7 linked regions of the Homo sapiens genome follow. The protein of the gene in region 3 interacts with the protein of the main gene of each other region in a pairwise test. Each region holds a gene or a part of one and is shown on either strand. Other genes may lie near its edges.

Evidence for each region.
Region 1: the proteins of SLC22A2 (region 3) and HRCT1 interact in a protein complementation assay, tested with the Homo sapiens proteins (one large-scale study listed by BioGRID).
Region 2: the proteins of SLC22A2 (region 3) and TMEM161A interact in a protein complementation assay, tested with the Homo sapiens proteins (one large-scale study listed by BioGRID).
Region 4: the proteins of SLC22A2 (region 3) and TMEM41B interact in a protein complementation assay, tested with the Homo sapiens proteins (one large-scale study listed by BioGRID).
Region 5: the proteins of SLC22A2 (region 3) and TMEM134 interact in a protein complementation assay, tested with the Homo sapiens proteins (one large-scale study listed by BioGRID).
Region 6: the proteins of SLC22A2 (region 3) and SLC40A1 interact in a protein complementation assay, tested with the Homo sapiens proteins (one large-scale study listed by BioGRID).
Region 7: the proteins of SLC22A2 (region 3) and TMEM176B interact in a protein complementation assay, tested with the Homo sapiens proteins (one large-scale study listed by BioGRID).

What each region holds. Positions count from the first base shown.
Region 1 is NC_000009.12:35,904,640-35,908,312, forward strand, and holds HRCT1 (histidine-rich carboxyl terminus protein 1), read left to right. Parts: upstream 1-1,562; 5' UTR 1,563-1,648; coding exon 1,649-1,996; 3' UTR 1,997-2,497; downstream 2,498-3,673.
Region 2 is NC_000019.10:19,121,232-19,125,593, reverse strand, and holds part of TMEM161A (transmembrane protein 161A isoform 1 precursor), read left to right. Parts: intron 1-3,774; coding exon 3,775-3,835; intron 3,836-3,925; coding exon 3,926-4,069; intron 4,070-4,172; coding exon 4,173-4,286; intron 4,287-4,362. UniProt on the Homo sapiens protein: May play a role in protection against oxidative stress. Overexpression leads to reduced levels of oxidant-induced DNA damage and apoptosis.
Region 3 is NC_000006.12:160,251,667-160,256,028, reverse strand, and holds part of SLC22A2 (solute carrier family 22 member 2), read left to right. Parts: intron 1-4,362. UniProt on the Homo sapiens protein: Electrogenic voltage-dependent transporter that mediates the transport of a variety of organic cations such as endogenous bioactive amines, cationic drugs and xenobiotics. Functions as a Na(+)-independent, bidirectional uniporter.
Region 4 is NC_000011.10:9,286,720-9,291,081, reverse strand, and holds part of TMEM41B (transmembrane protein 41B), read left to right. Parts: intron 1-2,539; coding exon of another isoform or gene 2,540-2,546; coding exon 2,547-2,640; intron 2,641-3,275; coding exon 3,276-3,380; intron 3,381-4,362. UniProt on the Homo sapiens protein: Phospholipid scramblase involved in lipid homeostasis and membrane dynamics processes. Has phospholipid scramblase activity toward cholesterol and phosphatidylserine, as well as phosphatidylethanolamine and phosphatidylcholine.
Region 5 is NC_000011.10:67,460,767-67,464,149, reverse strand, and holds the end of TMEM134 (transmembrane protein 134), read left to right. Parts: 3' UTR 1-2,440; downstream 2,441-3,383.
Region 6 is NC_000002.12:189,563,228-189,567,589, reverse strand, and holds part of SLC40A1 (ferroportin), read left to right. Parts: intron 1-1,990; coding exon 1,991-2,236; intron 2,237-3,364; coding exon 3,365-4,006; intron 4,007-4,362. UniProt on the Homo sapiens protein: Transports Fe(2+) from the inside of a cell to the outside of the cell, playing a key role for maintaining systemic iron homeostasis.
Region 7 is NC_000007.14:150,790,497-150,794,640, reverse strand, and holds the end of TMEM176B (transmembrane protein 176B), read left to right. Parts: intron 1-569; coding exon 570-680; intron 681-1,040; coding exon 1,041-1,097; intron 1,098-1,325; coding exon 1,326-1,553; intron 1,554-2,465; coding exon 2,466-2,585; intron 2,586-3,017; coding exon 3,018-3,110; 3' UTR 3,111-3,340; downstream 3,341-4,144. UniProt on the Homo sapiens protein: May play a role in the process of maturation of dendritic cells. Required for the development of cerebellar granule cells.

The sequences.
Region 1 (3,673 bases), on a different chromosome or scaffold from region 3:
ACTTCCCTAGGGAAGGCAGCCGGGCTCCCAGGGCCCCAGGAGTCTGCAGGAGGAGTTCTTACTCCAGCATCATTAAAAGTTCAAGTAGCTCCCCCAAGGGCCAAAGAAGTGCCAGGATTCATTAGACCTGCTGCCCCCTGAGCCCAGTTTGGTTGAAGGGAATGTTTAGCCTTTTCATCTGGTGAGGGTTTTCATTAAGGGTTTGAGGCCTCCCTAAGAGAACTCACCTCAGACTGAGGTCAGAGGGGGAAGGGTCCCTGGAGGTCACCTCTTGCTCCGGGAGTTCTGCAGAGGAGACAGGCTGGATCAGGGCAAGGGGTTTGCCCAACATCACAGGGTGGAGGTGCTGCCAGAACTCAGAGAACCAGCCTTGCGGTGTCTGCAGACATTCCTCCAGGCGGTAGGGAGATGAGCCTGGAGGGAGGGGCTGGGGACTCAGCCTGGAGGGACCCTGCAGAGCCAGACACAGAGCTGGGGCTTTGGGGAGCCCCACTGCATGTGAGGAAGAGCTTGGAGAACAGCCCAGCATGCCCACAGCAGAAAGGGTTGCCCAGAGAGAGAGTGAGCACCTGTTGCTGAGGTCTGTCAGCAGGATGGGACGGTGCCTCCCAGGAGGAACAGAGGGGATTTGGGCCTGGCGGGTGGGCTTGGAGGGACAGTCAGTACTGCTCAGATCCTGCCGCTCTGTAAATGCTCCACTAGGCAGGAATGGCACTCATCACTGCTGGGCAGGGAGGGTGTGACAGAGCAAGGAGCATGCCATTTATGGCCAGTTGAGACTGTTGAACTGGGAACCAGGAGGCTGGGCTGTGCCTGCCCTCTCTGAGCTCAGTGGCCTCCTTCTTGCCTCCCAGCAAGCTTGGGAGGACACCCAGACCCTCCTGCCTCCCAGAACAGGCCGGATGGAGGACCTCCCTGGATGGCAAAATCTGCCTGTGGTGCCTCCCTGAGCTTCTCAAGCTCATTGAGCTCGGGATGGCTCATCTGACAGAGCCTGACTCAGCCCCGGAGGGCTCTGCAGGCTGCAGGACAGGGAATCACAGACTCTCAGATGTCAGTGTCTCCTGAGCCATGGAGTCCATTGCAGTAATATCAGTTGCAAACATGACGGGAGCTGGTGTTGCTGCTTTACGCATCTCAACTCCTTTAGTCCTCGGAACACCCTACTGAGGAAGGAACCGTTATCAGCCATTTTACAGAAGAGGAAACAGGACAGAGAGGTTAAGTAACTTGTGCACAATCTCAGAGCAAGTGAGTGGCGTGGCTCCAAAGCCCGTGTTGTTCATCTCTGTTCTACACAGTCTCTACGAGAGGAGACTGAAGTGCGGAGAGGGAAGGTCACTGAGCCAGGCAGCAGGAGGGTTTCTTTCCTCTAGACTCAGGGCTCCTCCCTCAACCAGATCCAGCCTGACAGCTCCTCTGTCTCCACCTGGCCTCCCTGCCAGGCCTCCTCAGAGTTAACAGCGGCCTGGCCTCACCCTTGGCCAGCAGTTGCAAGTCCAAACAGGCTTCGCCCACATTCCCTGGCTGCTCTCCAGCCCGCAGCAGAGACAACAAAGTTCAGTGACTGAGAGGGCTGAGCGGAGGCTGCTGAAGGGGAGAAAGGAGTGAGGAGCTGCTGGGCAGAGAGGGACTGTCCGGCTCCCAGATGCTGGGCCTCCTGGGGAGCACAGCCCTCGTGGGATGGATCACAGGTGCTGCTGTGGCGGTCCTGCTGCTGCTGCTGCTGCTGGCCACCTGCCTTTTCCACGGACGGCAGGACTGTGACGTGGAGAGGAACCGTACAGCTGCAGGGGGAAACCGAGTCCGCCGGGCCCAGCCTTGGCCCTTCCGGCGGCGGGGCCACCTGGGAATCTTTCACCATCACCGTCATCCTGGCCACGTATCTCATGTGCCGAATGTGGGCCTCCACCACCACCACCACCCCCGCCACACCCCTCACCACCTCCACCACCACCACCACCCCCACCGCCACCATCCCCGCCACGCTCGCTGAGGCTGCTGTCGCCGGTGCCTGTGGACAGCAGCTGCCCCTGCCCTCCCATCTGTTCCCAGGACAAGTGGACCCCATGTTTCCATGTGGAAGGATGCATCTCTGGGGTGAACGAGGGGAACAATAGACTGGGGCTTGCTCCAGCTGCATTTGCATGGCATGCCCCAGTGTACTATGGCAGCAGAGAATGGAGGAACACTGGGTCTGCAGTGCTGAAGGGTTTGGGGAGTGGAGAGCAAGGGTGCTCTTTCGGGGCTGGACAGCCCGTCTTGTGACAGTGACTCCCAGTGAGCCCCAGAAATGACAAGCGTGTCTTGGCAGAGCCAGCACACAAGTGGATGTGAAGTGCCCGTCTTGACCTCCTCATCAGGCTGCTGCAGGCCTCTGGCGGGCAGGGCACTGGGAGAGGCCCTGAGAATGTCCTTTTGGTTTGGAGAAGGCAGTGTGAGGCTGCACAGTCAATTCATCGGTGCCTTAGTCCAAGAAAATAAAAACCACTAAGAAGCTTTTGTGAAGAGGCTCTTGATTGCAGCATAGTGGGAGGGAGGGAGCTGCCTGGCCTGTGTCCTCATTGCCCTGGGACCTCCCTCTCTGATGGGAAGCGTGTGGCTGGAGCAGGCGGCTTCTGTCTGGTTCTTAGGGGCTGGTTGTGGAGTGGGAAGAATTGGGTGGGCTCTGTCTGAGCTCTGAGGGAGGATTCAGGGTTTGCACAAAACCCTGCCCACAGCAGGTCCTGTGTGCACCAGCAGGGCTCTGGCCTTCCGCGGGACAGTCCTCGGGGAGAGGAAGGTTGGAGCCGCTGCGAGCCTGGCTCCCCAGGGCTCTGCCCCTGTACTTTTTTCAGCCCATGTCCAGGGCAGACTGAGCTCTGAAACTCGAGGAAGCCCCATCCACAGGCTGCCTTGAATCCAGTTTCCTTGGTAATTGGATCAGGGTTTCTTCTCCAAGCCTTGCGTTTTCAGCCATCCTGCCCCAGCTGGTGCCTGTGTGTGGTGGGAGGGCTGGGAGGCAGCGAGTGGAGTTCTTTAAAGTGGAGGCTGTGGTGCTGGGGTGCAGGGTGTTGGATGGCCTTGGGAGAATGCTGGGGTCTCACTTTCCTCTTCTCTGCAATGGGGTGGATAACAGAGATGCCCACGTGCCGAAGCCTGGAGGCTCGTTGGAATATGCTCTGTGAACAGCTAGTGGGATCCACAGCGAGGAAGGAAGCCTGGCTCTGAGGCCTTCAGCCTGTGCCTGTGAGCTGAGGTGGGAATTGGGGGAAGACAAGGACTGGGGGCCAGGAGAGGCAGTGGGGAGGGGCTGGAGAGCAGGCCAGAGACTCAGGGACCTGGTGACTCACTGGAATAGAATGTCCTCTTTCCTTTCTATTTCCCAGTGGATTCTCTGTGAGGGCTGCAGGAGGAGGGAGTGAGAGAGAGAGGGAGGCAAATTCACACTGATTTCTCCCACCTGAGGTTTCTGGGTTGGGAAAGTTGACCCTAGGCTGCCGTGCAGTGTCGATTTTCTCTGCAGTGTCCTTCAAATCCACCCCCTTCTCCATTCCCATGCCCTGCCTAGCCCAGCCCCCTCCATCCCCCTCCTGGATTCCTGCCAGCCTGCTCCCTGCAGCCCTGCCCCTTTCCCAGGCATCTCCAGGCTGATTTCACAGATGAATCAAAGATGGGGAGGAGGTTCCCCGAA
Region 2 (4,362 bases), on a different chromosome or scaffold from region 3:
AGTGAGCCAAGATCGCGCCACTGCACTCCAGCCTGGGCAACAGAGCGAGACTCCGTCTAAAAAAAAAAAAAAAAAAAAAGCTGGGCAAGGTGGCATGCACCTGTAATCCCAGCTACTCGGGAGGCTGAGGCAGGAGAATCACTTGAACCCCGGAGGCAGAGGTTGCAGTGAGCCGAAATCACGCCATTGCACTCTAGCCTGGGCGACAAGAGCAAGACTCCATCTTAAAAATCAATAAATAAAATATTTCAACTTTTACATTTCATATAAGCTCCTAAACTACTCACTGTTGCTGATGGACAGTGACATTAATTTTTGTGTTATCATATAGGGGTCAAATTTGAGTGTCTCCACGGACTAACCTTGCTAAACAATTATATTTTTATTGAATTGCAGATTCTTTTTGGTTTTCTTTTGTTCTGTCTGATCCTTCCCCTTTGGTGTGGCTAGGACCTCTGGATTTGAGAACAGTACTGGCGTACCTCCTTTTCTTGTTTCCAATTTCTCAGTTAGCTACTTGGCTCATAAATTTTCAATCTTTTCTAATTTTATAGCATATATAGCATTTAATGCTATATATATTTTACCAGGTCTCACTTTTGTTCACCTAAGTTTTTTTTTGTTTTTGTTTTTGTTTTGAGATGGAGTTTTGCTCTTGTCACCCAGGCTGGAGTGCAACTGTGCAATCTCAGCTCACTACAACCTCTGCCTCCTGGGTTCAAGCAATTCTTCTGCCTCAGCCTCCTGAGTAGCTGGGATTACAGGTGCACGCCACCACGCCTGGCTAATTTTTGTATTTTTAGTAGAGACGGGGTTTTACCATGTTGGCCAGGCTGGTCTCAAACTCCTAACCTCAGGTGATCCACCCACCTCGGCCTCTCAAAGTGCTGGGATTACAGGTGTGAGCCATCACACCTGGCAGTTTACCCAAGTTTTGACTGATATTTTTTATTATTCTGTTTGGGGTGTTTTAACATTTCCCTTCTGATTTCTGTAGAGATGGGGTCTTGCTATGCTTTGACCTATGGATTATTAAATATTTTTAAATTTTTCAAACATAGATCTTTAAAAAATACATATTTATTTCTAGCTCAATTGCACAGATGGTCTATTTGAAATAATTTCTTTAAAATTTGGTAAGATTTGCCCTATGGCCTGGAATGTGATCACATTTTGTGACTATTCCTTGTTTTCTTGAAGGACATATTCTGTTTTTGTTGTTTTGCCTTTTTTCACATGTTCTAATTGAAGGACATATTCCCTGGCTCTATGAGTTTAATAAATTCAAATCTCCATCTTGCCTAACCTTTTGTCTGTGACTTATCAGTCAGCAGAAGTTAATCTCCCTCTGGGACAAGAGAGCTCTCAATTTCCCTATCAATTCTGTCAGTGTTTTCTTTATATATTTTGCAGCCTATTCACAATTCACAGATTAGTTCTATTCACAGATTTAGAACTGTTACATTTTCCTGGTGAATCAGCCATTTTATCATGATGTATGGAACCCTTCTGTCTTCTAATACTACTTTTTTTTTTTTTGAGACAGAGTTTTGCTCTCGTTGGCCAGGCTGGAGTGCAGTGGCGCAATCTCGGCTCACTGCAACCTCCACCTCCTGGGTTCAAGCGATTCTCCTGCCTCAGCCTCCCAAGTAGCTGGTATTACCCGCCACCATGCCCAGCTATTTTTTGGATTTTTAGTAGAGCCAGGGTTTCACCATGTTGGCCAGGCTCGTCTCGAACTCCTGACTTTGTGATCTGCCCGTCTTGGCCTCCCAAAGTGCTGAGATTACAGGTGTGAGCCACCGCGCCTGGCCTATTCTAATACTACTTCTTAGTCTAGTTTGGCTGGTAGTAGTATAGCCTTTCTAGCTTGCTTTCTTTTGATTAGTATTTGCTGTATCTTTTTAACATCCCTTTACTTTCAGTCTTCCAGTGACTTTATGTCAAGGTATGTCATCCTTTAAAAAACATGTAGCTGGATATTTTCAATGTAGTCTGACAGTCTTTGTCATTTAACTTTAAAGTTTAGTCTACTTACATTTATTGTGATTACTGACATATTTGACTTTGTTTCTACCATCTTACTTTTTTGCTTTCTATTTGTTCCTTTTCTGTTGTTGCAGTTGACATTGGCTGTCAGCCTAATTGTTGTTCCTTTGTAGGTGATCTGTCTTAACTCCCTGGCTGCTTTGTAATTTTTTTGTTTTTGGTGTTCTGCAGTTTCACTCCATTATGTCTAGGTATGGATTTCTTTTTATTTACATGGTTTGATATACTTTGTGTCTGTCTTTCATTCTGCAAACTTCTCAACCATTCTCTTCCAGTAATTCCTTTTATTCTTCATTCCTTCTCTTCCCTCCCTCTGGGGCTCTGATTTGATTTGCGTTGGGCTCTCTGTTCTGTCTTCCTTATCTCTTAGCCTCTCTTCATATTTCTCACCTACTTGTTTTTCTGAGTTGGAATCTGAGTGATTTCTTCAGATCTGTCTTCCAGTTCATCACTTCCTCCTTTGGCTGTTCCTAATGTGCTGTTTAACAACCTATTATTTCAATACTTACAGTTTTCCTTTGGAAGAGTTTAATTTGGTTCCTTTGCAACTCTACCCAGTCATCTGAAGGAATTCTCATGTCACTTGTTCTGTGATTACAGCTTTCATTTCCTTAGTCATTTGACACATAATTGACAGCACCAATTTCTGAAGTCTTTGAGGCCTAAACTTGACTGTTGTTTTTCTGTTAACTCTCCTTTATGGTGATTTGTTTCCTTATGCATTTGGTGATTTTGCCTGTGAGCTCATATGAATTTGCTCCTTTTTTTTTTTTTTTTTGACAAGGTCTTGCTCTGTGCTGGAGTGCAGTGGCATGATCTCAGCTCACTGCAACTTCCACATCCTGGGCTCAACCCATCCTTCCCACCTCAGCCTTCACAGTAGCTGGGACTATAGGCGTGCACCACCACCCCTGGTTTTGTATTTTTTGTAGAGATGGGGGTTTTGCCATGTTGCCCAGGCTGGTCTCAAACTTGTGAGCTCAAACGATCCACCCGCCTTGGCCTCCCAAAGTGCTGAGACTTACAGGTGCAAGCCACTGCACCCAGCCCTGCTCTTAATTTTTGAAAAATCTTGGGTCCTGAATTGAGGATTCCTTCCTCCAGGAGGACTTTGGTTTTCTCCTGCAGGAGTCCTTCATCCCCCTCTAGATTCCTTCTATAACCTAGGGAGCTCAGGCTCAACAGATACCCCTGAATGTTCCCAGCCCAATCAGGAGTGTCTGCCTGGTGCATTCTGTTTCGTTTTCTTTGAGACTGAGTTTCACTCTTGTCCCCAAGGCTGGAGTGCAATGGTGCGGTCTCAGCTCACTGCAACCTCCGCTCCCCATGTTCAAGCGATTCTCCTGCCTCAGCCTCTCAAGTAGCTGGGATTACAGGCACCTGCCACCACACCTGGCTAATTTTTGTATTTTTAGTAGAGACGGGGGTTTCACTGCATTGGCCAGGCTGGTCTGAAACTCCTGATCTCAGATGATCCGCCTGCCTCAGCCTCCCAAAGTGCTGGGATTACAGGCGTGAACCACCACTCCAATCTTGTTTCTTGTAAAAAGTACTGTGTAACTAGAGCACAAAATTGTCCTTGTGCCTGGCTCAGGGCCTGGCAGACCCTTGTTCATTCCTACTTGGGAAGCAAACGGATGCCTGAGGGATGGGGGGTTAGGGAACAGAGTGGCCTTAGAGACCCTAGGAATTCACTCTACTCGGTCCTCTTCTTATCGTCCCCAGGTCTGGCCAGCATGACCCAGAACTTAGAGCCACTTCTGAAGAAGCAGGGCTGGGACTGGGCGTGAGTCCTGGGAATGGGGGAGGGAGGCAAGGGCAGGCTGGGACCCTCCCAGGGTCCCCCAGGCAGGCTCGTGACCTGGTGTTCTCCTAGGCTTCCTGTGGCCAAGCTGGCTATCCGCGTGGGACTGGCAGTGGTGGGCTCTGTGCTGGGTGCCTTCCTCACCTTCCCAGGCCTGCGGCTGGCCCAGACCCACCGGGACGCACTGACCATGTCGGAGGACAGACCCATGCTGCAGTTAAGTGGGTCGCTTGGTGGGTGGGGGGACTAGGGAGCTTAAGGGAGAGACTCGAGGAGAGGGGGTACCCAGGCCTCACTCCCTCCTGCCCTCACCCCCCAGGTTCCTCCTGCACACCAGCTTCCTGTCTCCCCTGTTCATCCTGTGGCTCTGGACAAAGCCCATTGCACGGGACTTCCTGCACCAGCCGCCGTTTGGGGAGACGCGTTTCTCCCTGTGCGTATTGGGTGGGGCTAGGAGGTAGCTGGGGCTCCCCTGGGTGCCCTAGCCTCTGAGATTCAGGGAGGAGCCT
Region 3 (4,362 bases):
TGTCCCTGGAGAGATGACGAGAGGCCTCTCTGATGAGTCTTGTCTTCAGCAAGCTAGTAGTCAGTGTTTGTATGGATCAAGCTATTGCTATGTCTCTTACTTATCCAGCATTTTGGAATCCCACACTCACTGTGCTGCAAGTTTCCTACAACATGCAGCTTTGCTCTCTTGATGACCAATGAGACATTTTTAGAAGTCCTCAAAAGGAAAAGGAACCAAAAATTTGCTTCATAGTTGATAGGCACTTTAGATAACTTGGCCGTCAGGGCTAATTATTTAATATTCATAACACCGTTTATTGAGTGTTTTCCATGGCCAGGCACTGTGTTCAACATTGTGGGTAATAGTATTCCCCTTAATCAGCAATCACCTAGTGAGATAGTGATACATAACTATAGATTATTATATATAATACACAAACATATAATTTTATCTAGATATAAATATATAATTATGAATTTACATGTAAAATATAAATATATAACTGAAATACATGGTAAAGTCAATGCATTTTATGCTTGTTGCCCTCCCATGCCATCCCCAACTACATCTATGATATAATCCAAACCTGTGAGTATAATGTTAAATGCAAGTAGAACATTTTCTCTGATTATATTATTTTAGGCTGAATTAAAACTTGCAAATGTGTTAAGGATGAATAATGATGGCTTAATATATCACACCCCCAAGGCATATGCACTTCACAGGGGCCTGGGGCCCAACTGGCAGCAGAAGGGAAGAGGGATAAAAGTGGAGGCACAGGCCACGTGCACCTCATCCATCACCCATGGTTATTAATTGTCTCCTCAGCTGCCCTGACAAGGCTCTTCCTGGGGCTTTCTGCGGGAGGCTTGCAAGGTGAAAGGGAAGGTTTTTATTTTTATTGCTGCAGAATTGAGGATGATTCTTTAAAGATGACGCATTAAATCAGGAGAGACACATTAACAAGGGGAGGTCCGGAGTCCACCTTGCACCCCTGGGCAGCTCTGGCCCTGCAGGCATTCACTCTCTCTGCACTCCCTCCTCCGCCACCAGGTAGAGGTGCTAACACTCACTCCCTGACAGGCTGTGAGTAAACAGGTGACTCAATCTTTAACCCTTGCTCAGTGGGTTAAGAAATTAGTTAATTATTCACATCCCACTCAACAAGTAGGAGATTGGTCATAAATCCCTACTGACAGTGCATTCCTGTGTTATAAGCCCTGGTCAATTATCCACCTTCTTAGATGATCTCATTATTTTGTTCCTATTGTTGAAATCCCCTCTGTCAAGGTAAGTACTCATTATTCTTCCCCCAAAGGCTGTCTCCATGCCTCGACTTCTTTTTCTTACACCATCTGAAGCTTGGCCGGTCATTGCCCTTCTTCTGTTCTGTGCCTGCATGCAGGAGTGAGAAGCCTAGCCTAAAGAAATGAGAAAGCAATTTGTTTTTTGTATAGTTAATGCCTACAATTTCCAGATTTTATACAATAGGACAAGAATGTCATGGATCCCCATTGTATTCACAGATTAAGCCAACTTTAAATAAAACACATTGTCTTCCATGAATAATTTTTTAAAAAAACAGTAAGGCATTATGAAAAGATTGTAAATAAGACTAAGAGTGGACCCAAGTATAACCCATAACTTCCTCATCAATGATTTTGAGTGTCACCTGAGACAAAAAAGCAATTCCTCACCAATCCCAGGGTTTTTTTAATTTTAACAAGCAGCAATTATAAGTACTATATTTTTTATTTTTTTTATTTTTTGAGACAGAGTCTCACTCTATCGCCCAGGCTAGAGTGCAGTGGTGCAATCTTGGCTCACTGCAGCCTCTGCCTCCTGGGTTCAAGCAATTCTCCTGCCTCAGCCTCCTGAGTAGCTGGGATTACAGGCGCCTACCACCATGCCCAGCTAATTTTTGTATTTTTAGTAGAGACAGGGTTTCACCATGTTGGCCAGGTTGATCTCGAACTACTGACCTTAGGTGATCTGCCCTCCTTGACCTCCCAAAGTGCTGGGATTATAGGCATGAGCCACTGCATGTGGCCATAAGTGCTATATTTACTGTGTCATGCTTGTGAATGCTTAACAACTAGTTCTCTGGGAGGGAAAGCCCCAGTTTGTAGTGTTTATTGATTGCTCTGGTGTAAATATACCCACTGTGGTTCACTTCAGCCTACAAAAATGACATCACAGGACATAGAGTTGGCTAGAAGTGTGCACCATTACACAGCATTTCCACCATGCAGATACAGTAGATGTAAATAACCTCACAAGCACAGATGGCCAAATATAGTAAAATCATTGGAAAGTGATGTTTTGCATATTACACTTGCTTTCAATATAATTTAGTTGTAAATGTATATAATTTAATTTTTAATAATGGTTATGCTAACAATTAGCTTGCAAATTTTCTGTAAGTCTGATCATTAGCTCTTAAGAGCCAGCACCCTACTTTTATGTGTTGTGATGGAACTAGATCAAAGTGAGCTAGGAGGAGGGACTTGACTCTGGAGGCGGGGCTTGGACACCAGACCAAACTGAGGACTAGCTAAAACAGGTCCCAGGCAGGAGCAGCTTTCCATAAGACATGACCACCAGTGCACCATGTCGGTTTACTATTGCCATGGCAACATGGCAATCTCCAGCCCCTTTTAATGGCAATGACTCTACAACCCAGAAGTTACCACCCTTTTCCTAGAAATTTCTGCATAAGCCACCCCTTAATTTGCATATAATTAAACGTGGGTTGCATATAATCAAATTTATAATTTAAATTAATTTGCATATAATTAAAAATAAATATGAGTACAGAACAGACTCCTCTGAGCTGCTATTCCAGGCACACTGCCTATGGAATATCCCTGCTCCACAAGGAACAGAGGTGCTGCTGCTATACATTGCAGCTTCAATAAAAATGGCTATTTAACAACACCAGCTTGCCCTTGAATTCTTTCCTGGGCAAAGCCAAGAACCCTCCCAGGCTAAGCCCCAATTTTGGTGCTTGCCTGTCCTGCATCAAAAGCAGAACTAAAGTCCCAGTGGGTTGCAGTCATACTTACCCAACTATATGGGATCTTCCAAAACACGTTCACCACTGATTACTGTGTGCTAGTCACTTTACTGGGCATCCTCATTTGTTATATTTCATTTAGGATCACGAGAGCCTTTTAAAGTAGATTTCATTATCCATAATTTACAATGGATGAAGAAACCGAGGCTCTGTGAAATTAAAGCACTGCTTCCCAAATGCTAAGTTGCATATAAATCTCCTGGGGATCTTGCTAAAATTCAGATTCTGATCCAGCAGATCTGGGTGGGCCCAAAATTCTGTATTTCTAACCAGCTCCCAGGTGATGCTGTTCCCAAGCCCATGCTAATAGTCCTCAGCCACATTCTGAGTCACAAGTAGCTAAAAGACTTACCAAGCCAGCAGTATGGGGAGTCCACCCTTCCTGTCCTGTTTCTTCTGATTGTTTTCCATTTAACCATTTAAATAGCCCTGCTGAGGGGTAGGAGGAGTCTCAGACCTCTATCCCAGATTCCCCAAATTTATTCTAGCCATGCCTTATTATTCTTTTAAGTAGCATTGCTTCCCTATGTGGAACATGTCTCCAGTGAAGTTTTTCCACATCATGGATTTGATTTTCTTGCTCTGAGTTTCAGATGATGAATATTCCCTCTCATCACCTAAAAGATTTTGTCCATCTACATGGGGCACTACTGTGGTGTTCTACTGTGTGCCTGAAGCAGTTTTGAAAGTTGAAGAAGTACCATTTGAGTCAATGTTTATAGATTATATACTCTTTGAGGGTAAAGGAAGGGGTTTGGGTAGGAAAATGTGGGAAGAAATGCTAAAAAATTAAGTTGAGATATGACTTTGGAAGGCTTTGAATTAGAGGCCAAGAGGTTGTATATTTACAGCAGGGAGCCATTGACTGAGAATTAAGAAATTACATCGTTACCTAGGTGATGGGTTGATAGGTACAGCAAACCACAATGGCACACATTTCCCTATGTGACAAACCTGCACATCCTGCACATGTACCCCAGAACTAAAAATAAAAATTTTTAAAAATGAAATTACATGGTCAAAACAGAGTTTTAAGACTTAAGAAATTTACTAGTTAATACTAATTACCAATGTAACTGCTTAACCTTAAAATTTCATATTTAAAATATTACTCTTCCAAAATAATTATTAATAATGTGGATTATTTTGAAATGGTTAGTATTTGACACCTTCACTAGAATATAGTTGCATAATAATAAAAGCATCAATTAAACAATGTTTATCCACCATTAAAAGGAGCAATCCTGATAACAAAAAGCCATCCTTCCAATTGAAGTGGAAAGACAAAGATTAAATAAACATTG
Region 4 (4,362 bases), on a different chromosome or scaffold from region 3:
GTCAGTGGCATGATCTCGGCTCACTACAACGTCTGCCCTCTGGGTTCAAGAGATTCTCGTTTCCCAGCCTCCTGAGTACCTGGCATTACAGGCATGAGCCACTGTGACTGGCCAATTTTTGTATTTTTATTAAAGACAGGGTTTCATCGTGTTGGCCAGGCTGTTCTTCAACTCCTAGTCTCAAGTGATCCACCCTCAGCTGCCTAAAGTATTGGGATTACAGGCGGGAGCCACGGTGCCCAGCCTGAAATATGTTAATATAGGGCATCATAACACTAGTTTCTCTACTTTGTTTTTTTTTCCCCAATTTCAGCTGTAATTTTAGGTTTCCTTTTCAGAGAAGTAGGAATTGCACCAAATTTTGGGAAAGGAAAAAATACAGTTGCGTTAAACAACAAAAACAACAAAACACTTCCTGGGAACTTGTCCTCATTTATTTCTGCTTCTCTCAATTTCCTCAAGGGAAAATTTCCATTTATCTCCTTTCATCCTTTGGAGTCTTGCTTTCTTTTCTTTCTTTTTTTTTTTTATTATTATACTTTAAGTTCTGGGGTACATGTGCACAGCGTGCAGGTTTGTTACATACGTATATGTGTGCCACGTTGGTTTGCTGTACCCATCAACTTGTCATTTACATTGAGTATTTCTACATTTACATATGTGTGAAACTATCCATAATATGATGTTTTGTTTTGTTTTGTTTTTGAGATGGAGTCTTGCTCTGTTGCCAGGCTGGCTTGCAGTGGCGAGATCTCGGCTCACTGCAATCTCCTGCTTCCTGGGTTCAAGCGATTCCCCTGCCTTGGCTTCCCGAGTAGCTGGGACTACAGGTGCCCACCACCACGCCCGGCTAGTTTTTTGTATTTTAGTAGAGACGGTTTCACCATGTTGGCCAGGATGGTCTCGATCTCCTGACTTTGTGATCCGCCTGCCTCAGACTCCCTAAGTGCTGGGATTACAGGCATGAGCCACCCCACCCGGTCCATATAGTACAATCTTAACCCAAAAAGTGTGTGTGTTTGTGTGTGTGTGTGTGTGTGTGTTTTGTTTTTGACAGAGACATGTAGGAGACAGGTGGAAAATTTGAGGCTGATGAACCAAAGAGAATTTCGAGTTTTTAGTACTATATGTGGTTGATACTTGAAGCCATGGAAATTGCCAAATTTATCAAAGAAAAGGGATTGTGTGGCCAACAGAATGTTAGAGAAATTTCAAGAGTTGAGGGCAAAGAGAAAAATCTAGAGAAGAAATTACCTGTAATGTAGAAGAAAAAGTACAGTTCACTGAAGCCATGTTTCATGCAGGATGAAGTCTAATCCTATGCAGGGATCACTGAAAGGTGACTATTGAGAAAAAGTTATTATTGGCTGTGAGGAAGTTTCAATAGCATAGTGGAATAGTAAAGCAGGTCACAGGGAACGAGGAGAGAATCTCCTCTGAGGAAGTGAAGATGAGCGGTAGCTGGATAGGATACCCTGGTTGAGGTTGTTTTTTAAGTTATAGACAACTGAGTAGTTTTGTAGAGGAGGCATCCTGTGAAAGAGAACAGAGTTGAAGGTGAAAAAACCCAGGAGGAAGGAGGAGGAGATTGAAATGAGAACATGAGTAAAATGGGAACTAGAGAAAAAGGAATAGTTAATGAGTGAGGATAGATGGAGAGATGTTGAGGGAATTCACTTTGACTTGTGAGTAAATCATATTAGAGGGGAAAAAGGTTCAGATCCAAACTGGGAACGACAGGAAAGTAAAAAAAAAAAAAAATCTATTTTAAAAACAAGATTTGTGGCCCGGGTGTAGTCGCTCATATCTGTAACCTCAACACTTTGGGAGTCCATTGTGGGAGGATCGTTTGAGCCCAGGAGTTCAAGACTAGCCTGGGCAACTCAGCCAGACCTCATCTCTACAAATAATAAAAATTGGTGTGGTGACACACGTCCGTGATCCCAACTACTTGCAAGGCTGAAGTGGGAGAATTGCTTGAGCTTGGGCATTTGAGGCTGCAGTGAGCCATGAGTGCGCCACTGCGTTCCAGCCTGGGTGACAAAGCAAGACCCCTTCTCAAATAAGATTTGTGACTTTTACTATATTTTGTAATTTCTATTCTTATTTTTCTTATTTTCTTTTATTCTCTTGTAGTTCCTATTCCTTTAAAATGAGTAGTGAATTTAGGTAAACCTTCATAGTTAAATTAGAAATAATTGTATGTACATGATTTCCCTGAAAACATTTGGGAGTAAAATAAAATGTATTAGAGAAGCACTAAAAGATTACGGAAGACCTTTTCTTTTTTCTTTTGTTCCTCCCCCAAAGTGCCCGGTTCCTCTCTATCTAGAACATACGGTTTTTTGTCTTGGAAACCTTTTAGTAGCACACACTTACTAGTATTTATGATACTGTTTAGTAAATGGTCAACTTAGAGGCTAGACCTTTGGATATAATCTCATTGTATGATAATTTTTGTATTTATACTTTTTTCCTGAAATGTTACATTTGTCTTTTAAAATTCTACTTAATTATATTCTAATCCTTAACTTAAAAGTTACCAGCTTGCAAACATTTGCTATTCCAGGCTCTATATTTCTCAGTATACTCTCAGGGTTTCTTTATCCCTTTCCACTAGCCTTATTTCTTGTTTGTTTGGTAAGTATGAAAAAATAAAATTGGGAGACTGAAAAAACAATAGAATGATGAGGATGATGATGATACTTTAACCCTACTAGTCTATGTAAGCATAAACTCATTAATTGAAGAGGAGTTAATGTTAAAGTCCCTCCACAAGGAGGTGTTATAATTTGTTTTTCCCCCAGAACAGACCAATTATAGACTTAGTTGCATTTATAAGCTATGTTTTAGCTTTTCTTTCCTATTGGATTTTGTAACTGCGACAGTCCAAGGAGTGTTGGTGAGCACAATGAGTTAAGTCCCAGAGCCAGAGGTGGTGTTTTCAAGCTTAGGAACTGGGGGGGTCGGGGGTAGGGTCGGGGGGAGGTGGAAATTGGCTCCTGAAATTTTATTCTTAGGCTAAAGCCTAGCATTAATTATTTGGATATAGTCACTAGGTGTAATCACAAGTGCCAGTTTGTTTTAGCTGATCTCATTTGAGGTACATTTTGGTCTGAGAAAGTACTAGATCATCTCTGCACAAGAGATGTCATGCAGAGTACCCTCCCCACCTCTGAAAGAAGTAAATTAATTGAGCTTTTTACTCAGGTGAATAAATCAATGTGAGTAAGACGGAAAAATACAAAACGCTTATGGCTTCTTTTGTTTTCCAGTGTTCTGGACTTGGTGCCTCTTTCTGTTATATGCTTTCCTATTTAGTTGGGAGACCAGTTGTATACAAATACCTAACAGAGAAAGCAGTAAAATGGTCACAGCAGGTAAACATGTATTTTTAAATTATTTGATGTAACTCTTTGTTAATTGGAAGGTCTGTGTTTAGTCCCTACATGAATTAACTACATGTATTAACCCAACATAAATTAATTCCTAAGTTAACTCAAGTAATAAGAATTATCTTCTGACCAAATAAAAATGGGTGGTAGGCAAATATGAATGTTAATAATTTCAAATACAAATGTTTCAGACCTGTGATGGTAATTTTAATTCTTTATCTTAGTAAATTTAATCAGCAGAGAAGTCAGTGTGAATATAAAGGCATCCACATAATTAGATACCTATCTGTTTTATGTTAATGCAGTATTGTGTGCATCTGTTATGGAAACACTTGTATCAGCCAACTCCCAGTGCATTTTTTTCTTTTCTTTTTTTGAGACGGAGTCTTACTCTGTCACCCAGGCTGGAGTGCAGTGGCATGACCTCGGCTCACTGCAACCTCTGCCTCCTCGGTTCAAGCATTTCTCCTGCCTGCCTCAGCCTCCCAAGTAGCTGGGATTATAGGTACATGCCACCACGCCTGGCTAATTTTTTGTATTTTTAGTAGAGACAGGGTTTTACCATGTTGGCCAGGCTGGTCTCGAACTCCAGACCTCAGGTGACCCACCTGCCTCAACCTCCCAAAGTGCTGGGATTATAGGCATGAGTCACCACTGGCCTTTTTTGATGATTTCTTTTCTTTTTTGAGTCAGAGTTTCGCTCTTGTTGCCCAAGCTGAAGTGCAGTGGCGTGATCTTGGCTCATTGCAACCTCTGCCTCCCGGGTTCAAGCGATTCTCCTGCCTCAGCCTCCCAAGTAGCTAGGATTTCAGGCACATGCCACCATGCCCGGCTAATTTTTTGTATTTTTAGTAGAAACGGGTTTCACCATGTTAGCCAGGCTGTTCTCGAACTCCTGACCTCAGGTGATCCGCCTGCCTCAGCCTCCCAAAGTGCTGGGATTACAGGCATGAACCACCTCGCCAGC
Region 5 (3,383 bases), on a different chromosome or scaffold from region 3:
CCGGCCGGAACAGCCTGCCCCACCCCCAGCCCTTGGATGACTCAACCAGCCCGTCTCTGTCTGGTGGCCCTGGCCGAGGGCACGCAGAGATGACGCAGGCCTGGGACCTGGAGGCTGGTATCCTAGTTCCAGCCTGGCTCTGGGGCCCTGGGCTGCCACAGCCAGCCCTGAATGTGGGCCATGTCAAGGCAATGGCCCAGCCCCCTCCACCCACTGCCCTCCTTCCCAGTCCCAGAGGTTGGGAGAACCTGGGGGCAGAGGGCATAGGAAGCCGCGCCTGACAGACACCCTCAGTGGTCAAAGACTTAGAAATGCAGAACGTTAGAAACAAACCATCTCAGAATTTTGGAACATCAGCATTTCAGAATCTTACGAAACAAGAAACAGAATCTTTGAGAAACCTGAAATCTGAGATCATAGTAGCTACCAGTTATCAATTTGTTGAAAGACCCCAGGATGGCCGGGCACGGTGGCTCAAGCCTGTAATCCTAGCACTTTGAGAGGCCAAGGTGGGAGGATCGCTTGAGCCCAGGAGTTCGCGACCAACCTGGACAACATGGCGAGAACCCATCTCTATTTAAAAAAAAAAAAAGAAAAGAAAATATACTAGGCCCTGCGCTAAGCACTGAACACGGGTTATATCTTGTAATCTTCACTACCTCCGTCCCATTTTACAGATAAGGACTGACTCACCCAAGGACAGCCAGCAGGTGGTAGGTAGAATTAGGAACGTAGCCCAGGGCTCTTCCCATGACACTGTCGGGGAGGGAGAAGGAAACCGGCACTGAGCTGGTCTCCCCTACCGGCCAACCAAGAGGCTGGCTGAGTGAGCAAGGGTTGGGAGGCCCTGTTGGTGCACCTGCCCGTACTGTCTATCTCCCCCACCAAAACACGGGTCCCACAAACCACTGTCTGCAGCACCCAACACAGCGGGGCCTTCAGGATTCTGAGTTAGAGGAATGGACACCCAGACTCTTGCTCTCGCTCCCACCTTTCCAGGCCCCGCAGACTTCCCACCCTCATCCCCCATTCAAGGCACTTAGGGGGCACCCATTGGATGCAGGAACTCCTAAACCAGTGGTCCCCCAACTAGCTATGGTAAAGGACCAGTTTTCATTTCTAATCCATCACGGTCCAGTACTTTCATAAGAAGAACTAGCCGGGTGCCGTGCCTCATGCCTGTAATCCCAGCACTTTGAGAGGCCACGGTGGGAGGATCACTTGAGCCCAGGAGTTCGAGACCAACCTGGGAAACATGGGAAAACCCCATCTCTACAAAAAATACAAAAACTTAGCCAGGCATGGTGGGGCGCCTGTAGTCCCACCCACTTGCGAGGCTGGAGTGGGAGGATCACGGAGCCTGGGAGGCTGCAGTGGAGTCATGATTGCACCACTGCACTCCAGCCTGGAAGACAGACTGAGACCTATTTAAAAAATAAATAAATAAATAACATAAAAATTTTAAAAACTAGAAAAATGAAATAAAAAACATACAGAGGCTGGGCGTGGTGGCTCATGCCTGCAATCCCAGCACTTTGGGAGGCCGAGGCAGGTGAATCATGAGGTCAGGAGTTCGAGACCAGCCTGGCCAACAGGGTGAAATCCCATTTCTATTAAAAATACAAAAAAATTACCGGGCATGGTGGTGCGCACCTGTAATCCCAGCTACTCAGGAGGCTGAGGCAGGAGAATCGCTTGAACCCGGGAGGCAGAGGTTGCAGTGAGCCGAGATCACGCCACTACACTCCAGCCTGAGCGACAGAGCGAGACTCTGTCTCCAAAAAAAAAAAAAATACAGAATACAAGTCCACAGTTTATCAGATTAATTAGACATAAAATTACATTTCAATAAATATAATCAGAACAAACATAGGAAAAAGGAAAAATGACAAAAACCATTGAATATGAACAAACAGGCAATTAACACAGAATCGCAGCTAACAACTTTTTACTCCTTGTTTTTTTTTTTTTTGTTTTTTTTTTGAGACGAGTCTCACTGTCTCCCAGGCTGGAGTGCAGTGGCCCGATCTCGGCTCACTGCATCCTCTGCCTCCCGGTTTAAGCGATTCTCATGCCTCAGCCTTCTCAGTAGCTGCGACTACAGGCACATGCCACCATGCCCAGCTAATCTTTGTATTTTTAGTAGAGACAGGGTTTCACTATGTTGGCCAGGCTGGTCTCCAACCCCTGAGCCACCTCGCCCGACTTCATTCTACAGTCTTAACAGAAAGCAATTTCAGAAGTGGTGATTCCCATCATTAGAAGTCTGCGTTAGGAATCAGCAAGGTATAGTCCACAGAGTGGTTTTTATATTTTGTAATGGTTGGAGAAAAGTCAAAGAATAATAAGATTTTATGACATAAAATTATATAAAATTCAAATTTCCATGTCAATAAATGAAGTTTTACTGTTATTTATTAAAATTTCTGATATAGCCACACTCATTTGTTGACTTGACTTTGCACTACAAACTTCAACAGCAGAGTTGCGTGAGCAGCTGCAACAGAGACCAAAGCCTCAAAGCTGAAAATAATTATTCTCCAGCCCTTTACAGAAAGTTTCCCCACCCTTAGTCTACATGAACACTTTGACAGAACACCGTGAATCTGACTTTTCTCTCCAGTTATTTATAAGATTTGCTTTTTATATTCTGTGGTTTCAATGGGATATATCCAGATATATATTTATTTTTATTTACCCTACTCTGACTTCAGTTTGTTCCTTCAATCTGGGGAGTTGAAGTCTGTGGAAGTCTTTATGGAAAATTTTCAGCCATTATCTCTTTGGTTATTGCTTCTTGTTCATTCTCTATGTATGTCCTCCGTCTGAGACTCCCAAGGACTTATCTGTCTTTTTCTTTGAGACAGGGTCTCTTGCTCTGTCACCAAGGCTGGAGTGCAGTGGCACGATCACTGCAGCCTCCAACTCCTGGGCTCAAATGATCCTCTCACCTCAGCCTCCTGAATAGCTGGAACTACAAGCATGAGCCACTACACCCAGCTTATTTTTTTATTATTTTTTTTAAGAGGCAGGGTCTTGCTGTTAGGCTGGTCTCAAACTCCTGGCCTCAAGTGATCCTCCTGCCTTAGCCTCCCAAAATGCTGGGATTACAGGCATAAGCCACCACACCCAGTCTTCCAGTGACCTTTTTTTTTTTTTTTTTCCGAGACGGAGTCTCGCTCTGTAGCCCAGGCTGGAGTGCAGTGGTGCAATCTCGGCTCACTGCAAGCTCCGCCTCCTGGGTTCACGCCATTCTCTTGCCTCAGCCTCCCTAGTAGCTGGGACTACAGGCGCCCGCCACCACGCCCAGCTAATTTTTTTTTGTATTTTTAGTAGAGATGGGGTTTCACTGTGTTAGCCAGGATGGTCTCGATCTCCTGACC
Region 6 (4,362 bases), on a different chromosome or scaffold from region 3:
TTTTCACTCTGTTCTGTGAGACAGGAAGTGAAAAAGTAGATCACTTTCTTCACTTTCTTTTTGTCCTAAAACTTTTGGTTTTATTTTATTTTAATTAATTTTTTATACTGACACATAATTGTGCTTATTATGGAGTACATAGTCATGTTGTGATGAGATGAGATGGAGATACATCTCCATCATCTCAAACATGTATCATTTCTTTGTGTTGGACATTTTTTTAACTTCCTCTTTATTGATTTTGTCCTGCACTCTGACTCAGGAATACATTCCCGTAGTCAAACTCTAGACTTTGTTATCACCACTAAATTCTCTCCTCCCATAATCTCAGTCTTAGGCATCCATATTTTGAGAAATCACCTTCTGTCTTTCCACCAACTTCTTCACTACCACAGCCTCAACAATCCATGTGGTTGGCACCTACAAACCATTCATTCCACGGCCTTTTCACTGTCCATGATCTCTCTCTTGTCTCTTTCTTACCCAGCTTAAAATTCAAGGCCAGTCATGATTATATGATCATCTCTTGGCATATACCCTCAGCTCAGTTGGCCCCCTCTCGTTTTGTCACTTTTGTTTGGTAAGACTTTGGTTAAATCCAACTTTCCACAGTAGAGCATGGCTGGAAAAAAATGCACGAACTTGCTCAGCATTCTCACTTGAGGTTCAGGGCCACAGAGTTGGTCCTTTCATGCTTCCAGATAATCACACTATTTTCTCTGATTCTTTCCTTCTCCACTTTCCTAGAGGACCATTCACAGTTGTTTCTCCTCTCTCATCACATGTTCAAGTCCTCCTCCCCCATCCTCACTTTCGTCAATGACCTGGCTTTGTATTTTGCTGAGAAAATGGAATAAATGAGAAGAAAGCTTCCATGTGATTCCACCATCATGTCTCTCTTCCTACCTGTACCTGAAGCCATATATGTGGTCTCTACTCTTGTTACTATTGATGAATTGTGTTCCTGTCTAAGAGCAACTCCTTCAGTTATGCGGTAGATTCAGATTACATCCCTTATCTACTGTATCATTCCAGGCAGCACATAATCCTGCTCTAATTTTGCTCCTCTTAAAAATCCCTATCTTTAGCACACTTCCTTCTCTGCTACTCTATTTCTTTGTTCTTCTTTTTGTCAAAACATATCCAAAAGACTTGTCTATTTCCAATTCCATTTTTTGGGCAGTACCTTGCTTTCCATAAGGCCATGGGAAGCATTCACATTGTGCTCCAGGGTATGACTCACTGAAAATACAAATGGTGTCCCCTGGGGTTGGCACCAGTCTCTTAAATCAGCTTTATTCAGGCATTGCCCTTATCGTTCTCCTTTTTTTGAGGTCTCCAGAATCTCTCTTGTGACCAAGCTAGTGTTTCTTTTCAGTGCTTCTCGTTGCTGTGATGCTCTTTTTTTCAGTGAGTCCTCTGACCTCGCCTTATTTAGAACATTCCCCTGGGCACTCTCTGCCCTTTTGCTTCATTACTTTTCACCATAGTATTTAATAAACATCTGACATATGCAGTGTTTGTGTGTGTATACACACACACACACACGCACACACACACACACATATGCTTGTTGATTTATTGTCTTTTCTTTCCTGTGAGAATATAAACTCTGTGAAGACAGGGAAGAATGTTACTTTTCTTCTTTATAGTGTTAAGAATTGTTGAGAATAATGACTAGCTTATAATAGGCATTTAAGATATATTTGTTGAAAAAAATGAATGTAGAGTCACTGCTGTATTCATTTTAAAAAGCTATTAGACTGATTTATGCAATTCCAAGGGGATTATCATTGTTGAGGCAAATTTAGTGGGACTTGACCCAAACAACAAATATTTTTCCAACAAAATGTCTTTCTTACAAATGTACTTTTAGAAAACCACATTTTAGGAATCTATACTCTTGGTTTACAGCTTTGTATTGTGTAAATGGGCAGTCTCTCTTTGATGGGTTTGCACACTTACCTGCCTCTTTCACCTGCCTCTCTAGATATGAATGCCACAATACGAAGGATTGACCAGTTAACCAACATCTTAGCCCCCATGGCTGTTGGCCAGATTATGACATTTGGCTCCCCAGTCATCGGCTGTGGCTTTATTTCGGGATGGAACTTGGTATCCATGTGCGTGGAGTACGTTCTGCTCTGGAAGGTTTACCAGAAAACCCCAGCTCTAGCTGTGAAAGCTGGTCTTAAAGAAGAGGAAACTGAATTGAAACAGCTGAATTTACACAAAGGTAAACTGAACACAATGATCTCTCCTTTTGTTCTCATGTTCAGACCTTAAATGTTGGTGAAGATCAAAACTATTTTGAATTTGTATCAGGTTTTATTACCAGTGGGGGCCAGATGAGGTTAAATATATCGCTTTGGTAGACGAGGCAAGAGCAGGCTTTTGAGGATCTAGGGAAAAACTCCGGGTTGAATCTGGTGGGGTTAGAATGGGTCCCCTAGCCCTCTTCCTTGATGTGAGCAGTAGTTATAGAGGTTCAATTTTACTTGAGAGATAGCTGGGCAAAGCTAAGTCATAGGACTGGGAAAAAATGTGGGGAAAAAAAGAGAATGAGAGAATCCCTTGGACTCTGTGAGGAGGGAGTTATGTAGTCATTTGTAGGACAGTGGAAGGGAGTGAGGACACAAAGATGGGTATTTCACTGGAGAAGAGGACGCTGGGCTTCTGGGTAAACAGAATCTTTTATCCAGCTCTGCAGGGACCCAGAAAATAATATGCTGGTTGTTTTTTGTTTTTTTGAGACAGAGTCTCGCTCTGTCGCCCAGGCTGGAGTGCAGTGGCGCGATCTTGGCTCACTGCAAGCTCTGCCTCCTGGGTTCACGCCATTCTCCTGCCTCAGCCTCCCAAGTAGCTGGGATTGCAGGCATCCACCACCACACCCGGCTAATTTTTTGTATTTTTAGTAGAGACGGGGTTTCACCATGTTAGCCAGGATGGTCTTGATCTCCTGACCTCGTGATCTGCCCGCCTCGGCCTCCCAAAGTGCTGGGATTACAGGTGTGAGCCACCGTGCCTGGCCAATACGCTGTGTTTTTTTAGACAATTTTAATATTTTATCTGGTGAGTTTTCCTGCTGTTTACTTTGGTGGGAGTATAATTTCTAAGAGCAAGAGAGAGAGAGAAAAAAAAGAGGGATAGATCAATAGTATTTTGTTTATTTAATAAAAATGACACTTGATGATTATTCCTTGGCTGGAATTCTTAGATTATTAGTAAAAGAAAATACATATTACAATGTCTAACCAAGGGTACCCATTGGGAAGGGGAATAGAAGGAAAAAAAGTACTACTAATAATTGGCTTTTATTTCTACATGTCCTCCCCAACAAAATAATGGTATCTTTTCTTAACAGATACTGAGCCAAAACCCCTGGAGGGAACTCATCTAATGGGTGTGAAAGACTCTAACATCCATGAGCTTGAACATGAGCAAGAGCCTACTTGTGCCTCCCAGATGGCTGAGCCCTTCCGTACCTTCCGAGATGGATGGGTCTCCTACTACAACCAGCCTGTGTTTCTGGCTGGCATGGGTCTTGCTTTCCTTTATATGACTGTCCTGGGCTTTGACTGCATCACCACAGGGTACGCCTACACTCAGGGACTGAGTGGTTCCATCCTCAGTATTTTGATGGGAGCATCAGCTATAACTGGAATAATGGGAACTGTAGCTTTTACTTGGCTACGTCGAAAATGTGGTTTGGTTCGGACAGGTCTGATCTCAGGATTGGCACAGCTTTCCTGTTTGATCTTGTGTGTGATCTCTGTATTCATGCCTGGAAGCCCCCTGGACTTGTCCGTTTCTCCTTTTGAAGATATCCGATCAAGGTTCATTCAAGGAGAGTCAATTACACCTACCAAGATACCTGAAATTACAACTGAAATATACATGTCTAATGGGTCTAATTCTGCTAATATTGTCCCGGAGACAAGTCCTGAATCTGTGCCCATAATCTCTGTCAGTCTGCTGTTTGCAGGCGTCATTGCTGCTAGAATCGGTAAGAAATCTCTTTTTATATATTAATGAACTAAAGTGTCTTTTTGTAATGTAGGTTCAGAGAATCCATTAATAAATGATCTGAAATGTTCCCTAAATGTTAATTTAAGCAAAATCCACTCTTACGAAATTTTTATTTTACATATTTATACTTTATATTTATTGTGTTTTTTATTTTATAGTTTGAAAACCTGTATTTGTTTACTTTATTATATACATATACTTAAAACATGGTTCAGGCTTGAAAATAATTTTTTCTAAATGAATATCTTAAATATTACTTGTTTTTTTTTTTGTTTTTTTTTTTTTGAGATCAGGGTCTTGCTCTGTTACCCAGGCTGGAGTGCAGTGGTGCAG
Region 7 (4,144 bases), on a different chromosome or scaffold from region 3:
AGATGGCCCTTGAGCCACTGTCTTGCTTAATCATTGGCTGGGGGGCCCTCCTCAGTGTGTGTCTTCAGCTTGAAAAATTAGGGTGACCCTGAAGGAGCTGACAACTGCAGGCTGTCAGCAATCAAACAAGCCCTTTCTTGAAGGAGGTCTCAGCGGCACTTCTTTGTGTCTGCCACAGAGCCCTCAAGAGTGTGTGTTTGGATCTGAAGAGAAAGGATAGGCCAGAAGCTCAGGTCAGGCTGGGGGTTTGGATGGGACAATGGGACCTCTGAAGGAGAATGGGGGGGGAAAAGTGGGAATCTTCAGGTGGGATGAGAAAGTGTTGAAGTTGGGAAAAATTGATGAAGGATAAATAGCCAAGCCTATGAGAAGGGTGAGGGGAGACCCAGGCCAGTGCTGCTTCATGGATTTTAAGGGGACAGAATCTTCCAGAATCAGAGCTGCAGAGAGGTCAAGGCAGAGGAAAAGGAGAGGAGAGCCACCTAGGTAGGAGCCAGGCAGCTGGTCCCAGGGCAGCCGGGGCATGTGGACTCACGGGAAGGGGTCTGGTTTCTCATCCTGTCTTGCAGGTGACTCAGATATTGCTGGGGGTTGTGAGTTGTGTTCTTGGAGTGTGTCTCAGCTTGGGGCCCTGGACTGTGCTGAGTGCCTCAGGCTGTGCCTTCTGGGCGGGGTCTGTGGTGAGTAAGGAACAGGCTGTGAGCCTGGAGGGAGGCAAGTGGTGATGGGCAAGAAGGCGCTTATGGATCTTGGTTGGGGCTTTGGGGAAGCGACCAAAGTCTCTGGAGCCAAATGGCCTTTGGCCATGAGGAGGCTGCTCTGGGGTGTAGCTAAAACCCTGTCACTTCCATTTTTCTCTTGAAGACAGATGGGAGGGGTGGGGCAGGTATAGGTGGAATCCTGGTCTGTGTGTCAGAGTTCTTTGTCTGTCCCTGGGATCCTGCTTCACATTGGCTATTCTGGGAACTGCTGGTGGGAGGGTGATGATAGACCAATTCAGAAGAGTAAACTGGAGGCCTTTTTCTGGTGTCTCTTTTCAGGTGATCGCAGCAGGAGCTGGGGCCATTGTCCATGAGAAGCACCCGGGCAAACTTGCTGTGAGTCTTGGACACCCTCTCTCCACCTTGTTCACTGACCCCCTCCTGAATTCTGCTCCATTATCTGTCTTCTGCCCTTTGGTTGTCAATATCTTGGGGTCTTTCTTGGAGGGGAGGAGAGGGTTTCCTGGACAAGGGCTGGGGAAGAGGAGAGGGATTTGAGGCGGGGACCTCATGACTCTTCCACCGATTGAAGGAGCGTGTGTCATGACCCTCTTTCTCTTCCAGGGCTATATATCCAGCCTGCTCACCCTGGCAGGCTTTGCTACAGCTATGGCTGCTGTTGTCCTCTGCGTGAATAGCTTCATCTGGCAAACTGAACCCTTTTTATACATCGACACTGTGTGTGATCGCTCAGACCCTGTCTTCCCTACCACTGGGTACAGATGGATGCGGCGAAGTCAAGAGAACCAATGGCAGAAGGAGGAGTGTAGAGCTTACATGCAGATGCTGAGGGTGAGCAGGAAGAGTCCAGTCTTCGGGGACCCATCACAGCTCTTTTTTCCCAGGGAGCTGGGGGCCCTGGAGGACAGAGATGTAGGCTCTTTGAGCTTGGACTTCATGCTGGGTCTTTCATTCAGGAGGTTTTAATGTAAGCTACAGACATTTTTCAGACCTCATGACACGAAGATTCTCTGAATCAAGGAGGGTGAGGAACAAAGAGGAGACATTTCAGAGAGGAGATAGTGGGTCACCCTTCTGGCTTTTCTGGTGTGTTGGTATCACAGTTTTCCATTACTGAATTAAAAACCACACCAAAATGTAGTGGCTTAAAATGACAACTTATTATTTCTCACGGTGCTGTGAGTTGGCTGGATTCAGATGAGCCATTCTCACTCACGGGTTTTCTCATGCAGTTACAGTCAGATGGGGGTGAAGTTATCCAAGTGCTCGCCGAGGCTGGAGGTCTGAGATGATGTAGTTGCATGGTCCGGAGCTCAGCGGGGGCTGTCAGCAAGAGCCGGCAATGGCTTCTCCACTTGGCTTGGGCTTCTCATAGCACAGAAACTGGATTCCAATGGGGAGTACCCTAGTTGCAAGCATTTCAGGAGACAGAAAGTAGAAGCTGCCAGACCAGCTAAGGGCTTCCCTGTCACTGTATAGTGTCACTTTCACTGTGGCCAAAGCAGTTCTAGGCCCTTCCAGATTCTACGGGTTGAAGGAATAGTCTCCACTTCTTGACAGGGAGTGATAAGTTCACTCTGCAGACAAGCCAACGGGATGGAAGCTGTGGCTGGAAACACAGTCAGCTGTGGTGGGAGCAGCAAGCTGGATAGAGTCAGTGCCTGGGTGGGTGGAGAGGGTGGTGATGTGGGCAGCATTGGAGTAGCTGACACCTGACTATCTTTGTTCTTCCCTTATCTCCAGAAGTTGTTCACAGCAATCCGTGCCCTGTTCCTGGCTGTCTGTGTCTTGAAGGTCATTGTGTCCTTGGTTTCCTTGGGAGTAGGTCTTCGAAACTTGTGTGGCCAGAGCTCCCAGCCCCTGGTGAGTTGTCGGGGAGGGGCCTCTGGGCAGCGTGAGTCTGGGTGGTGAGTGTGTGGGACAGGTAGGAGTGCGGGGCCAGGGGCACCCGAACCTGAGGCTGGGCCTGGTGCCCCTCAGCTTCTTTCCATATGCAGCTCTCCCCTTTGCTGTCTGGGGAATGTGGCCATCACCATGGTCCTGGGCCAACTGTCGCCGCCCTGTGCCTCTCTGCGCCCTCCTCTGCTCTGATCTCCCCACTCTCCCCTCTGCCCTGTCCCAGGTGTTCGTCTGACTCCCCTTCCTCTGCCACCTTGTTTTTTTTTTGCCTGATCTGCTTTTCCTGTCACCTTTTCCTTTCCCTCCTCCTTTCCTCTTTCTGCTTTCTGAGTTCTATGATACTAACTCTGCCTGCATCCTTTTCCCCTAAGGATTTCTTTTTTCTTTTTTTTCCAGAATGAGGAAGGATCAGAGAAGAGGCTACTGGGGGAGAATTCAGTGCCCCCTTCGCCCTCTAGGGAGCAGACCTCCACTGCCATTGTCCTGTGAGCTGCCAAAGACCCCACGGGGTGCCCGCATGTCCCTGTCTAGGGCAGCCCAGGGCCCCCACTCCTGGCTCCTCACACTTGCCTCCCCTATGGCCGCTCTCCAGACCCTCCTCCTTTCTTCTCCCCACATCCGCACCTGCTGTTCCCACTCTGGGGTTCTCAAGTCCATGAACAGATATTGTTGCATTTTCCACAATGCTGATTAAACATAATAAACAATCCAGAAAAGCAGTTTTGCCCAGAAAGATATGGTTTCCCTTTGTTTATACACCTCGTGCGCCATGAAAGGCCTTTCTTTGTGTCGCTATGTATGAGGTTAAATGGGAGCTGATTTATCCCATTAAAACACTGTCCCAAGAAGATTAAATTTAATTATGTTCTGCTGTACATCCAGGTGGCAAAACCCCTTTTTATGATTTTCTTCAATTCAGTGTAAAGTGTAAGTCTAGTGGGCCTAGAATCTTCTTACCTGCTGAGATTGTCTAGGCTCCTACAACCTCGGCCTGTAGACTTAAGAGAACTGTGTGGAGCATGGAATGAGATTTTTGCCCCCTCCCTCCCTGTCTTCCTTCCTTTCTCTTTTTTCGTTTTGCAGTAATTAGTGTTGGTTCTGTCTCTTTTCCTGTCTCCACACACACATAAACACATCCTTAGTCTTCCTTCCTTTCATTGTAAATGATAGCAAACTGATTTTGACTTTTTCCATTTTCTTTATATATGAAGATATAACATAAATATATAGATGTAAGCATTTCTGAAGGGCAGGAAAGCTGGTAGGGGCTTTATGAAATCTCCATGAGGCCAGTTTCATGACTTAGCAGCCCCACAGGGCTGGTCTTCAGATCCAAGGCGATGGGCTGCAGGGCCTGCACCTTCCCTCTTGGCAGAGCGGTGCCACAGAGGTGCAGAGCTGCTGCGCTGGGCAAGACCTGCTCCTGCACAGGACTTGGAGTAGGGGCCTGTGCCGAGGGCGGTGCTGCTCTTCCTGGGGCCCTCACCAGCCTGTGCTTTACATAGAGGCTTGTAAAGAAGCCT